Linked DNA regions of Homo sapiens. The protein of the gene in region 2 interacts with the protein of the main gene of each other region in a pairwise test. Each region holds a gene or a part of one and is shown on either strand. Other genes may lie near its edges.

Region 1 (7,028 bases), on a different chromosome or scaffold from region 2:
CAACCTCAGAAAACCACTGAGGCCCTGCAGGTCATGTGAGGGGTGGGCCATCAGCAGATGGAGGCACCTGGTGTGGGTGGGGACGGGGGTGAGAGGCTTTGGTGAACAGAAGAGCAGAGGCACCAAGGCAGCAGCTTTGCAGCTATGGGTTGCTTTCCTGCAGTGGGTGACCAAGGAGGGCAGGTCATGCTGATCAGAAAGGTACACTGCATGACTCAGATGCCACCTGCACCTACCCAGCACCCTCCACGTCCCCACCTGGCCTGTGAATCTTAGACGCCACCTACACCTGCCCAGCACCCTCACATCCTCACCTGGTCTCCTGCGCATCACAGATGCCACCTGCACCCGCCCAGCACCCTCGTACTCACCTGGTCTCCTGCGCATTGCAGATGCCACATGCACCCACCCAGCAACCTTGTCCTCACCTGGTCTCTGGCTGTCCAGAGTTGCTTCCTGTTGACGACAGCTCTCCTCAGGTGCGCTTTTTATCTCCTGTACTGTCACAAAGGAGCTGACCCTCTCCTGGAAGAAAATGTTGATTTTACTTTTCAATCCAGGGGCCACCTCTTTCATTGGTGTGTGCAGCTGACGTTTCATATTACAGAAATCATCTCTGGGCTCACAGCCTACACTCTCTTCCTCATTCTGGTTACTCATTCTTTCTTTTAGGTTGTGTTTTTTTGTAGATGACTTTAAACTATTTCTTTTCATATTAGGTCTGAAATTACTTTTATCCAGTATACCAATTTTTTCCTGATGTTTTAAACCTTGGTTTTTGTTATTTATTTGATAATATCTACTGCTGAAGGAAATCTTAAACTTAGTTTTAGGAAATATGAAGTTAAGTTCTTTCAATTGATTATCTCCTCTTTCCCACTCCCTTGCTCTGGTTCTGCACTTGAAGTTGCATTGCTCCCAGGTAGCGTCATGCTGGGTGTTACCTTAGTGCTTTCCTCGATGCGTGATCTGAGTGACTCCATGGTGCATACACATCATCCTGGGTGTTACCTTTGTGCTTTCCTCGACGCGTGATCCGAGTGACTCCGTGGTGCACACGCGTCATGCTGGGTGTTACCTTAGTGCTTTCCTTGACGCGTGATCTGAATGCTCCGCGGTGCACACGCATCATGCTGGGTGTTACCTTAGTGCTTTCCTTGACACGTGATCTGAGTACTCCGCGGTGCACACGCGTCATGCTGGGTGTTACCCTAGTGCTTTCCTCGACACGTGATCCGAATGCTCCGCGGTGCACGCGCGTCATGCTGGGTGTTACCTTAGTGCTTTCCTTGACACGTGATCTGAGTACTCCGCGGTGCACACGCGTCATGCTGGGTGTTACCCTAGTGCTTTCCTCGACACGTGATCCGAATGCTCCGCGGTGCATGCGCGTCATGCTGGGTGTTACCTTAGTGCTTTCCTCGACGCGTGATCCGAGTGACTCCGTGGTGCACACGCGTCATGCTGGGTGTTACCTTAGTGCTTTCCTCGACGCGTGATCCGAGTGACTCCACGGTGCACATTCACTGCAGCATCTCTGTGTGGCAGTCCTCAGCCTTTAAACTTGACGGATGCATTTAAGTTCACTTCTTAGATTCTCAATAATTCTGTCCCTAGAAGAAAGCCAGCTTCCCTCTACAAGTGCTCTGGGAAAAGGAGAGCAGGTTGAAGTAACATTTCCTGTACTGAGACTTGCACCCTGTGATCTCTCACTCATCCCAAATTCTGCATGTGGATGGTAAGTATCAAAAACTTTGCCTATGCCACATAAAGGAAACCTCTTAAATTCCTTAGATGAACATTAGGTTCATTTTCTAAGAATGACTGAGATAAAACCAAATTATTTTGGTCTCTGATTATTAGTAACTTCATTCTTGGGATTGCATGTTTTAAATCTTAAAGTTGGTAAACTTGGGCAATGATACGTAAGTGTCTTTAATAAAAGGAATTGGATGATTTTTAAGTTTATTACCAAAGTCTAGGCAGATCTTTGCCTCTGTGATACAACTTTTTCTTTAGAAAGAGGAAATGGTGATTGGAATGGCCTAGACTTTCCCATCTACCGCTGTGCTATACATTACACATTTAAAGTTAACCCCAGACTAATTTTATTTATTTCTGTGCTCAGTAGAAATATTATTACATATTTGGCAACATAAGGAAGTACTGTTTAACTGTGATTCAAGAATATATTACAATTATGTTTACTTCTCCTCCCCAAAATGCTTGAGATTAGGGGGCAACCTTGCTTTGAATGGCCTTGGCCGTTGCTTGTCTTTGTCTCTGTGCAGAGCTGCCCCTGGAGCAGAATATTCCCTGCTTGGTCCAAACCACAGAGAGTAAGCAGGGTGGGCATGGAGGCTGGACACGGTGCTCCCGGTGGGTGCATGGACCTGAGGCATTTTGAGGCTTCCCTGGCTTACCTCGAGCAGAGGGAGCCCTCAGAGCTAAGCCAGAGCCACATGACCCATTCTGTTGACGATGGTCGTTGGGTGAACCGTGGACTGGTGCTGGTGGATGCCCAGGAGGAGCCCAGGGTGCTGCCTGGGGCGGAGCTGGAGAGGGGAGGTCTGGAAAGCAGGTTCCAGCTGGGGGCCTCTGCCAAGTCCATGTCCAGCCTCCCTGGAGATGGCTTCTCAGTGTATTAACAGACCCCGTTGGCATTGGTATTAACTCTGCCGCCTCGGGCCAGCTACTTTCCTCCTGGAGTTGGTTCCTTATTCACAGAGGTGGGCAGCTTGTGTGGCCTTCAAGTCTAGTCACTCGGAGGCTACCTGAGCAGTGGCCTTGGCCCAGGCACTGGCACTGACCTTTTCTGTAACCTTAGAAGAAAATAGAAACCACAGAGGTCAGAGCGAGCGTCTTCACAGACATTAGCAGGTGCCCAGGGGATCACCACAAATGCGTTGGTGGCACAGATGTGGCCAGCCTGGCACAGATGTGGTTCTCACTGGCAAGAACCTGCCCCGGCCCACGCTCTCCACTCCTGCGGAGAGCTCACAGCCAGGCCAGGGGGCGCACGTGGGGCCCAACGCCCACGCTCCCCACTCCTGCGGAGAGCTCACAGCCAGGCCAAGGGGCGCACGTGGGGCCCAACGCCCACGCTCCCCACTCCTGCGGAGAGCTCACAGCCAGGCCAGGGGGCGCACGTGGGGCCCAACGCCCACACTCCCCACTCCTGCGGAGAGCTCACAGCCAGGCCAGGGGGCGCACGTGGGGCCCAACCTTCAGGAATAAGATTATTGTGTATTCTTTTCTTTTTTTCCTTAAATCAGTCTTTCTTCTGAGAACACCCGATGTGTGTGGATCGGAAGCTCAGTGGGCTTATTCGTATTTAACCTGGCAAACCTGGAAGTGGAAGCTGCTTTGTATTACAAGGGTAAGATCTTTGATTTCAACGCCATGTAACTGTAATGTTTTCCTTTGACTGGTATGTGGGGTAGTGTAAGTGTTTGTGGAGAAGGCCTTGCCGTGTGAATCTGAGGATGAGATGCTTCAGTCACAACTCAGCATTGAGCACGTGAGCACCTCTGTGCTGCTGGATCCGAAGGACGAGGGCCCTTCCCGGACCCTCGGGCACTCAGCCCTGGAGCCACTCCTTGCCTACATCTGCCAGGCCCTCGCCTGGCACTCCAGGCCGCCCGGGCCCCAGCAGCGTGGAACACCTGCAGGAACACCCTTGGGAAGCCCCTGGATTCTCCACCATCCTTAGAGAGCCTCCCAGAGCCCCAGGCTCGCACAGCGTAAACCCGGCCGAGGCGCACTCCTCTCCAACCCTGGCTCCCTTCCCCAGTTTCTGCCAGCTCCAGAAATGTAGGAATAGTCACCTCCACCCCCACCCCCTCCCCCAAGACCCCCATCTCATCCCCCCACCCCTCCTAACTCCATGGATGCCACCAGCCGCACTCTTTCTGCCCAGGAGCCCAGGCGACTTCTGAAAAGCAGGCTGGATTCCGTCCCTCTCCTCCACTGCAGCAGGGCCTCCTCGGCGGCCTCCCGGGCACTGCTCCTCTCGGTGCCTCCTTTCTAGCCCTGAACGCTCAGACCTCTGTGGGGCTGTGGGATGCATCTGTGTCTTCACACACGCCCTTCCCTTCAGCCGCCCATCCCTGCCCCTCCCCAGCTCAGCCAGGCGCAGCTTCTCCTTGAAAACTCAGCCTTTCCTTCCCCCAAATGGTCACAGCTCTAATTACACATTTCCTTTCTGATCTGGTGCTGGACATGTGGCTTCTCCAGGAGGCTGAGCTGCAGGTCTCAGTCCGAGTCACATCCCAGCCTCAGAGCGGAGCCTGGCATGTGTGACGCTCAGGGCCTGGTGTGTGTGTGGTGTGTGCGCTGGTGTGTGTGTGGCCTGGGGCCTTGTATGTGTGAGGATGTGGTGCACAGCCTGCAAAGTGTGTGGTGGGGCCTGGACTGTGTGTGGTGGGCTCTGGGCTGTGTGTGGTGGGCTCTGGGCAGTGACTCCGTGTGTATGTGCTACCTCCCTCCCCATCATGTTCTTCCTGGTCTTCGCTCAACTGAAGATTTCCAGAGCCTCAGCATCCTGCTGGCCGGATCGTGTGCCCTGAGGAACCGCACTGCGGATCAAAAGGTCAGTCCTGAGACGCGGCCCTCCCTGTCTATGAGACGTGCCTCTGATTTCTTCTTTCTTCAGAGTGATCCTGTAACGACTGGCTGAGTAAACGGGATTTTGTGTGTAAAAACGTTTTAGGAGTGACAGGGCGATGTCGCTGCTATGAGAATGAAGCAGCTGTTAGGATACGTGTGCGGATGCACGTTTCGTCTGCTTTTACTGGGTGGTGTCGCTAACGATGTTGAAACCGCGTCCCTGCAGGTGCTGTGCTTGCTGGCCTCCCTCTTTGGCGGGAAGATTGCCGTGTTGGAGATCAACCCGGCCGCGCTAGTCAGGGCTCAGCAGTGCCCCAGCATGGGGCAGAGCCTCTCGGTGCCAGCCAGGTAGAGTGTCTTCAAGTGTGGAGTGTGTGTGTGTGTTCACCAATAAGTGCCATCTGGATTTCTATGTTCAGAAATAAAGATTAGAAAACTCTGAGCTCTGGCCGGGCGCGGTGGCTCACGCCTATAATCCCAGCACTTTGGGAGGCCGAGGCGGGTGGATCACGAGGTCAGGAGATCGAGACCATCCTGGCTAACATGGTGAAACCCCATCTCTACTAAAAAATACAAAAAACAATTAGCCAGGCATGGTGGCAGGCGCCTGTAGTCCCAGCTAGTCGGGAGGCTGAGGCAGAAGAATGGTGGGAACCCGGGAGGCGGAGCTTGCAGTGAGCTGAGATCGCGCCACTGCACTGCAGCCTGGGTGACAGAGCGAGACTCCATCTCAAAAAAAAAAAAAAAGAAAACTCGGAGCTCTGCCAATGCTATTTGGAAGAAGGTTTTTCGTGCTGTTGCTTCTATCTTGTTGAAAACGAAATAGTTGATAGTTTATTTTAATTGAAACACTATTTCATAATAGAATGTACATTATAAAACAGCGCTTTTATTAAGAATATTTTTTTCCTACAAGGATAAGAATACACTTGACAGTTTTCATTTTCAGATACTGTTATGTCCACAGCTGCAGGAATCAGTCATTTGGAACTGTCTTTAAAGTGTGTGTCACTGAGGCATTTCCATCGTATCGTCGTTTGCGCTCCTAGTTTCATGGGGCTTGTTTCTGTTTCAGCTCCTGTGTCCTACCGACCTCTCCACTGTATCTGGGAATTGCCAAGGAGAAGAGTACCAAGGCTGCTAGTGAACAGCGACGTGGTCAGTACAGGGTGCTGTGAGATCTAAGAATACAAGGCTGATGCGTTCTCATTGTGGTTAGGGCTGCTGCATTGCTTTGCGAATTCTTATGTTAAAATATGCATTCCGTACTTCCTTCCATCCTTCTGTCCTTCATGTCTCTGCCTCTCGTGCGTGTTCCATGTCCGCTGTGGTGGGGAACTTGCTGGGTGCTTCGCCTCCTGAATTGGCCATCACTCATGGGATTCAGCAACGTGCCCAAGACTGACCGCTGTTCCTCTGGTGCCTGTTGCAGTGGGGGTGCAGAGTGGACCTTCAGCAATTACTGATTGTGAGAACATTTTTTTCCCCTTTTTTCTCTGCTGAGGAATTTGAAAGCAGATCCCGAGCGTGTGATTGTACTCCTGCACACTTGAGTGTGCATTTCTGGAACATGTATGTTTTTACCTAGCCACCATGACGTTATATCAAAACCAGTCATTTTTTGGAACCTTGTATTAGCAAGGCCATAATAAATTATTCTTGATTGCCTTGACAATATTTCCTATTGGTTTGTTCTGAGCAGCAGCCAAACAAATCCACATGTTGCATCTTTCAAATATGTATAAATTAACTTTCACTTTAAGATGGTAAACGTCATTATGTTCCCTTTCTTTCAAGGCTCACTGATAATTCTTTTTTCCCTTCAGTGACCAGTCTAACCCTTTAATTGGTCTTGTGAAACCTACTGGACCTCATTTGAAAAACGGAGGCATTTCCGCAGCCGCCTTTCACCTTCTGCCTGGTAGCTGCCTGACTGCTGGGCCTCACCTCCCAGAAGGGCCATCTCCCCGGCCAGCGACCTGGCGACCCCACCCTTGGGCCTCTCCCCGGGCCGGGCTCGGCTAGGCTGGGCTAGGGTTCCTGCGTCAGTCCGTCCTCAGACATGGGCTGTGTCCTTCATGCTCCCACGCAGCCCTTGAGCTTGACTTCGGGGACTTCTGGCCTCTCCCTTCCCTACCAGACTTTTTGAAATCAGGCCTCGAACACCTTCTGTGCCATTCCTGGGTCTCACTGACTGTGTGGTTCTGACCCGCCTTGCAGATCGGGGAGAGCTTTCAGGTGGAAGGCGGGGACTCAGAGCTGAGCCTGGGGCTGGAGCTGTTTGCTTGTTCGTCCTGCCATGGCGGTCCCTGCTGCTGGGGGTTTCCAGCAGGTCCCCCATTCCTCCGCCCTGTTTCCATGAAAGACCCACTGTCGGTGTGAACTGCCCGTCTCCTGCCGGTTTATGCTCTGCTGCCGTC
Region 2 (7,009 bases):
AACCGGCTACAGCAGCTTAGCACCTAGCCAAAGCCTGCATCTCTCCCACCTTAGGATTTAGTGGTTGGCTAGAGCTGACAGCGTCCATGCCACATCTGTCTCTGCATTCTAAGTTTGCTTCCAAGATACAGATACAAATGCAGGCTGGCTCCAACCTAGCCAGAGATCCTAGCCCCACTCTCACCATCCCAAAATCCCTCAAAGATCCAACAGACTTTCCAGATTACTAGAGTCTCCTCTCAGGTTCCCTTGACAGTTAAATGCCCTCTTTATCTGAACTAGCTGCAGGTACCATATAATGGGTACAACAGAAAATCATACTGCTGTAAGTGTAAAAGATACGCAGCTCTTTCAAGCATTTCACTATATTACATCTAGGTTACCTTCAAGTGATTTATTCAGATGTGATTGAAGAAAATCTAAAGGGAAAAAAAAAACAATTTAATTTGATATCAGATATCCTGGCTTTATAACAAATAAAACATTTCAAGTTAATAGAAGATACAAAATATTCACTATCAAAATGTCCTCACTGACAAAAATGTTCTCAAATATTTCTGTCTCAAAGTTGCATTGTTCAGTAAGGAAGCAAAGTAGGTGAGACATATACACCAACAACATCCCTAATAAAAAACTTAGCTCATCCCTATAAGCCCGGAAGCAAATAAATCACCCTTACATACGTTAATTACTTTCCAATTTCAAATTCTCAACTGTGAAATAAAGGGCTGTTTTATTTGGCTGCTGCCAGCTCAAAATGACACATTGCACCATGTGTGGCATTTGGGCCCTGTTTGGCAGTGATGACTGCCTTTCTGTTCAGTGTCTGAGTGCTACGAAGATTGTACACAGAGGTCCAGATACATTCCGTTTTGAGAATGTCAATGGATACACCAAAAACAAGATGTTTTAATTAAAACATCTCTAACTTGAAAAATAACTATTTTGGTGTTTTTTTTAAAAAAACTGCGAATTGCAGCAAATGCCCAAATAGTTTGGGATAAACACCCTAAGGAAAAAATATACATTCAAGTTGCATAAGTCACTTTGAGCTATTCTTTGATGATATTTCATTTATATCTAAAAGAACCAAAGGTTTAGCTGGCTTTTCCGGAAAACCAGAACCAAATAATATATGGTTAGAATGAAAATCATCTCAAGCAATTTGGAAATGAAGTACCACATGTCCTATGCTGTCTCTTCCATGCACTTGACCAAATAGCCCAAATAGCCTATAACAAATTATTTGAGATTTACTGGAAAAATTCCATAAGATTTAAATGAGATGACTACTAATAAGCCATCTGCCTTTGACTCTATATCAATTTAAAACGGGTTAGGAAAGTGCTTTGAAAATCAAGTATGGTCATCAGGGAATCAGTTACCTAAGTCTTCTTAACGCTGCTTAGTGAATCCCTGTATTAATCCTGCTATAATAAATACATTCTAACCACTAAACTGGAGGGGAAAAAGGGAGAACAAAGAGGCATGTAAAGTACACTTATTTTTTCTAGTAGGAAAAAGCCAATTAAAACTATAACCTATTATTTTTATTGGAATCAGTCTTATAGGAGGGCAAAGTTCCTACTGCCGCTACCTGTTCTCAATATTTTTCTTATTTCTTCCTAAACTTCTAGAACAGTGCTGTCCAATAAATATATATGTAAGCCACATATGTAATTTTAAATATACTAGTAGCCCCATTAAAAGAAAAAGGTGAAATTAATTTTAAATAAACTTAACTCAGTATGTCCCAAATAGTAACATTTTAACATATATGTAATCAATATAAAATATTATCGAGCAGATATTTTACACTGTTCTTCCTACTCCAACGACAAAATCCAGTGTATTTAACACAATACATCTCAGTTAGGACTAGCCAGCACTTCAAGTGCTCAACAGTTACAGGTGGCTAGCGCCTACCGAACTGGACATGGCAGTTTCAGTGCATTTAATTTCTATTCCACTTAGTGCTACTTACAACTTCACCCTCTCCCTTTACTTTTATATTAAGATCTCAGTAAGTAACCAACTACAGACAGGTTCAAGCCCTACTTTACCTCTAATTACTCTTACAGCAATGCTATGAATCATGATTTAAAATTTAAAAAAAAAAACTGCTGTTAAATTATTAGTCAAGCGCCCAGGGCAATGGACAGTAAAGAAATAATGTAGGCCACGGGCCGAGATGAAAACTGTCCTTTTTATTTAAAGCTATAACAATCATCTGAAGCCAGCCCTGCAAAATGACAGCCATTGAAAAAGGCATGCTAGTTCTTTTGCCTTTTTCTGTACTTGGTCGCCTGTGTCCCTAAACAGACCTCTTCTCGGCAGGGTTTGCTCAGCAAGTCACTTGATGAGTCTTGCAGTCTACAGAGACAGGTGGGGACTGGTGGGGATGGCGGGGTGAGAGGGGAGGAGGAGGGTGAGCGGTCCAGGTGAGGAGGGGGGCAGTTGAAGGTGAAAGCAGACACCGAGACGGTGATAAGGCCGCAGTCTCTTCCTAGATCAGGACCACGCGACACCTGACTGCGCCCTGGCCACGAGCACGATCCGACCCGTCCGCCGCAGGGACCCGGACCGCGAAAATGTCCACAGGCTTCGACGCCACATAGTAAAAAAAAGTACACATATAACATTTACAGGGGCTCAAACTGCCGCTGCCTCCTCTCCGGAGCGGTCCGGCCTGCCGGCCGCGGTTCCCTCTCGATGCTTCAGGGAACCAGGACAGAAAGGTCCTTCCGCTAGCTGTCAGGTGCGTAACAATCGCTAGGCGTCCGCCCCGCCCTCCCTACCGCAGGAGCCGCAGCATCAGCAGGCGCCCGCGAACCGCGTCTGCCGGGTGCCAGGCTGAAGACCGCATCCTCCACCCCTTCCTTCCGGAGCAGCCCCAGGGCACGCGAGGAGGATGCTGGCGCGGGGCGCAGGGCACGGGGCGCAGGACCCGGCTCACCTGGGCGTAAGCAGGTCAGGGTGATGTGGCGGGCTGAGGCCAGGGATGTGGACAGCTTGACGGGCGGCGAGGCCGCTGGCGCTTATACCGACCTGGCTCCTGTAACGCGTGCGGGAAGTTTCATCATGCCTGCGAGGACCAACCAGCGCGCACAGGGGCGGGGCCGCGGGGTGTCCGGGGCGGAGCAGGACTAAGTGGGGCGGCGGAAGGGCGCAAGGAGGAGCTCTTTTGTTTCCAGCGCCTTGCGTCTCAGTGCGCCTGTTTAAGGATAGCCTCAGAGCTCCGCCCAGGCTACCTGCTGTTCTGACAATTAGGGAGGCTTCTGAACTTGGTTTGTTCTTCGGGAAATCATCACCGTTTTTTTGTTGCACTGCCGTCTGATTTATTATGCAGTGCAGAGAAAAGCTTGTCCTAAGAAACTGATGCGTGAGGCCTAAAATGTCCTTATAAGATCTATTAATAAATCGGGGCCAGGAGCGGTGGCTCACGCCTGTAATCCCAACACTTTGGGAAGCCAAGGCAAGAGGATCACTTGAAACCAGGAGTTCAAGACCAGCCTGGGAAACACAGCGAGATCACATCTCTATAAAAATTGGTGGCACACCATGGTAGTCCCAGCAACTCAGGAGGCTGAGGCAGAAGGATAGTTTGAGCCCAGGCGTTTGAGGCTGAGGTGAGCTCAACTCCAGCCTGGGCGACAAAGGGAGACCCCCATCTCTAAAACAATAAAATCTAAATCTAATTGATACATGAAGCCAAAATACATCAGTGGTCCTTAAACATTTTAAGTACAAAGATTCCTTTTAGAATCTCAAAAAGGATTTTGTCAACTTGCCTCCACAAGATGATTATGTGCTTTTAAGTATCTCTTTGATGAAGAAAAGACATCACGATTTTTAAAAAGTATCATAACACTCTTAAATCGTATTTTACTAATTACATCAGCACCGAAATAAATTGAGAAATAGTAAAATTATATGTGCACGACCTACTAAGATCAGACTACAGTCAATGCTTGGAGAGCATGCAGGTTTGATATCCCCATACAACGCATTCCTGACTAAATCAAAAACGTCAACAATTTAAAATCCCTAAGAACAGAAGATGGAGTAGTCGCTTAGTAGTTACAGGCAAGAGCAAAGATGAGAGATGACTTGTTCTAAGGTTCATTGTTGCTGGAAAGTTTTCAGTATCAAACAGACTTTGCTGTATCCTAATTGACGTACTTTAAACCTGAGAGCAATGTGGGAAAGTAGGTCTTCTATCTACATTTTACAAATGAAAAAATAAGACTCAGAAAAGTTGAGGGATTTATCCAAACACAGCTTCACAACAGTAGAGAACTGAGTCATAATCTGTGTAAACCCAGAGCCCATTTCCCGTAGCATCTTGCCTATGTAGTGAAAGACAGGTTCCCCTGCTTGGTGTGTTACCTAGTGTGCTTCCTTGTGCTGCGTATCTCCTGCTTGTCCGTCCAGAGCTCTACACTTCTCCACCTCACTTTCTATCCTGGCTCCCTTGCCCTCCTCTTTCAGGGAGAGTGTGCAAAGGCAGACATTTCAAGGAGATGCAAAAGGTGAAATTAAAATTGCTAATGAAGTTTTGGCACCATTGTCATTGATAACATCTTATCAGGAGACAGGGTTTTGAGATCAACCGGTCTGACCAAAGTTTATTAGGTGGGAATTTTCTCTTCCTAATAAGCCTGGGAGTGCTATGGGAGACTGGAGTTTATTTCACCTCTGCAGTCTCGACCATAAGAGACAGGTACGCCCCGGGGGGCCAGTTTAGAGACCTACCCCTAGGTGCGCATTCTCTTTCTCAGGGACGTTCCATGCTGAGAAAAGGAATTCAGCGATATTTCTCCCATTTGCTTTTGAAAGAAGAGAAATATGGTTCTGTTCTGCCTGGCTCACCGGCGGTCAGAGTTTAAGGTTATCTCTCTTATTCCCTGAACAATTGCTGTTATCCTGTTCTTTTTTCAGGGTGCCCACATTTCATATTGCTCAAACACACATGCTGTATAATTTGTGTACTTAACGCAATTATTACAGGTCCTGAGACGATATACATCCTTCTCGGCTGACAGGATTAAGAGATTAAAGTAATGACAGGCATAGGAAATCACAAGGGTATTGATTAGGGAAGTGATAAGTTTAGTCCATGAAATCTTTACAATTTATGTTTAGAGATTGCAGTGAAGGCAGGCATAAGAAATTACAAAAGTATTAATTTGGGGAACTAATAAATGTCCATAAAATCTTCATAATCCACGTTCTTCTGTCATGGCTTCAGCTGGTCCCTCCGTTTGGGGTCCCTGACTTCCCGCAACACAGCACAGTGCCTGGCACAAAAGAGTTGCTCAATAAATACATCAGGATGAATAGATAAATACACGGATAGGCACTTTGAACTACAGATGAGCTTAAATACTTTGTGTTTTTCTTAGTCAAACATGTGCAATTAAGCATGTGATAAATGTTATGATGACCACACGTGTGTCTTGCCTGATGTTCTTTGCAATCACTAAATGAAGTCAATTGTGCCTGTTTTGACAGTTCTATTTTCAACCTAATGATCTGTTTATTTTAACTTCTGGCTGTTGGCTTTGTTTGGGTTTGTTAGCCTGACGAAGTGGTAGATATTGGTATTTGCTCTTTTGTTTAAATGTCACGAACTTTAAAAATGCCTTTGCTTTTGGGAAGAAACCCTAGTTAGGACACCCTAGCGGTCAGGATGATTTGGGTTCTGGTGCAGTAACGACAATCCCCAAATCTCAGTGGCTCCATGCAGTGAGGTATTTGTTTGTTTTTGAGACAGGGTCTCACTCTGTCACCCAGACTAGAGTGCAGTGGTGCAATCTCAGCTCACTGCAACCTCTGCCTCCCAGACTCAAGTGATTCTCCTGCCTCCTGAGTAGCTGGGATTACAGGCCCATGCCACCACTGTCTGGCTAATTTTTGTACTTAGTAGAGACAGGATTTCACCATGTTAGCCAGGCTGGTCTTGAACTCCTGACCTCAAATGATCCACCCGCCTTGGCCTCCCAAAGTTCTGGGATGACAGGCATGAGCCACCATGCCTGGCCACAGTGAGGCTTATTCTTGGTCACGTTGCATGTCTGGGCTGTGTTAGGGCATTGTGTGGTGGTCTGTTCATTGTGTTCACTCAGGGATCCAGGCTGACAAAAGCCCCATCTCTGCATGTGTCCTTGATCACCCTTCAGGGGAAACGGAATGTGGTGGATCATAGAGCCTCTTAACACTTCCACCTGGAGGTGACTCAAGTTGCTGCTGCTGCTCATGGTTCATTGGACAAAACGGATCACAGAGTCATGAGCAACTTCTCTGTGCTTGGAAGGGGAAACAAATTTGAATAGCCACATTGATTTTCCCTAGATATTACACAGAAGGCCTCATTTAAACACAGTTACTTATTTGTGTTTTGAAGCTAATTGTAGTCCATCAACCTTCACAGAAGACATGTGCACTTCCAAGCTATTATTAGGCAATTTTTTTTTTTTTGAGACAGAGTCTTACTCTCTTGCCCAGGCTGGAGTGCAGTGGCATGATCATGGATCGCTGCAACTTCTGCCTCCTGGGTTCAAGTGATTTTCATGCATCAGCCTCCCAAAATGCTGGGATTACAGACACCCACCACCACGCCTGGCTAAGTTTTGTATTTTTAGTAGAGATGGGGTTTCACCATGTTGGCCTGGTTGGTCTGGAACTCCTGACCTCAGGTGATCCACCTGCCTCGGCCTCCCAAAGTGCTGAGATGATAGGCATGAGCCGCCGCACCCGGCCTTGAGTATGATTTTTGATTTGGAAGGTCAGAGTTAGGGTTTTAGTCTGAGGACTGTATGATGTGAAGGTGAAAAGCAGAGCTTGGCTGTGAGTTTGCTGGTATTCCTGTGCTGCTTCTACAGCTCTTTGGCTGTGTGACCGTCACCTTTGGCAAGTTCCTTTACCTTTCTATGTGTTGGTTTCCTCATCAATAAAATGGAAAAAATAATCATAATCATAATAGCTATTGGTGTTGGGATAGCCCAGT

The links.
Region 1: the proteins of ASNS (region 2) and WDR27 interact in binary tests that used the Homo sapiens proteins (3 or more experiments, as listed by UniProt).

Annotation. Positions count from the first base shown.
Region 1 is NC_000006.12:169,657,014-169,664,041, reverse strand, and holds part of WDR27 (WD repeat-containing protein 27), read left to right. Parts: intron 1-163; exon of another isoform or gene 164-479; intron 480-1,617; coding exon 1,618-1,738; intron 1,739-3,275; coding exon 3,276-3,379; intron 3,380-4,523; coding exon 4,524-4,591; intron 4,592-4,834; coding exon 4,835-4,956; intron 4,957-5,683; coding exon 5,684-5,766; intron 5,767-5,995; coding exon of another isoform or gene 5,996-6,111; exon of another isoform or gene 6,112-6,280; intron 6,281-6,434; coding exon of another isoform or gene 6,435-6,454; exon of another isoform or gene 6,455-7,028.
Region 2 is NC_000007.14:97,869,395-97,876,403, forward strand, and holds the start of ASNS (asparagine synthetase [glutamine-hydrolyzing]), read right to left. Parts: upstream 3,015-7,009; 5' UTR 2,957-3,014; intron 2,772-2,956; exon of another isoform or gene 2,325-2,771; intron 420-2,324; 5' UTR 384-419; intron 1-383.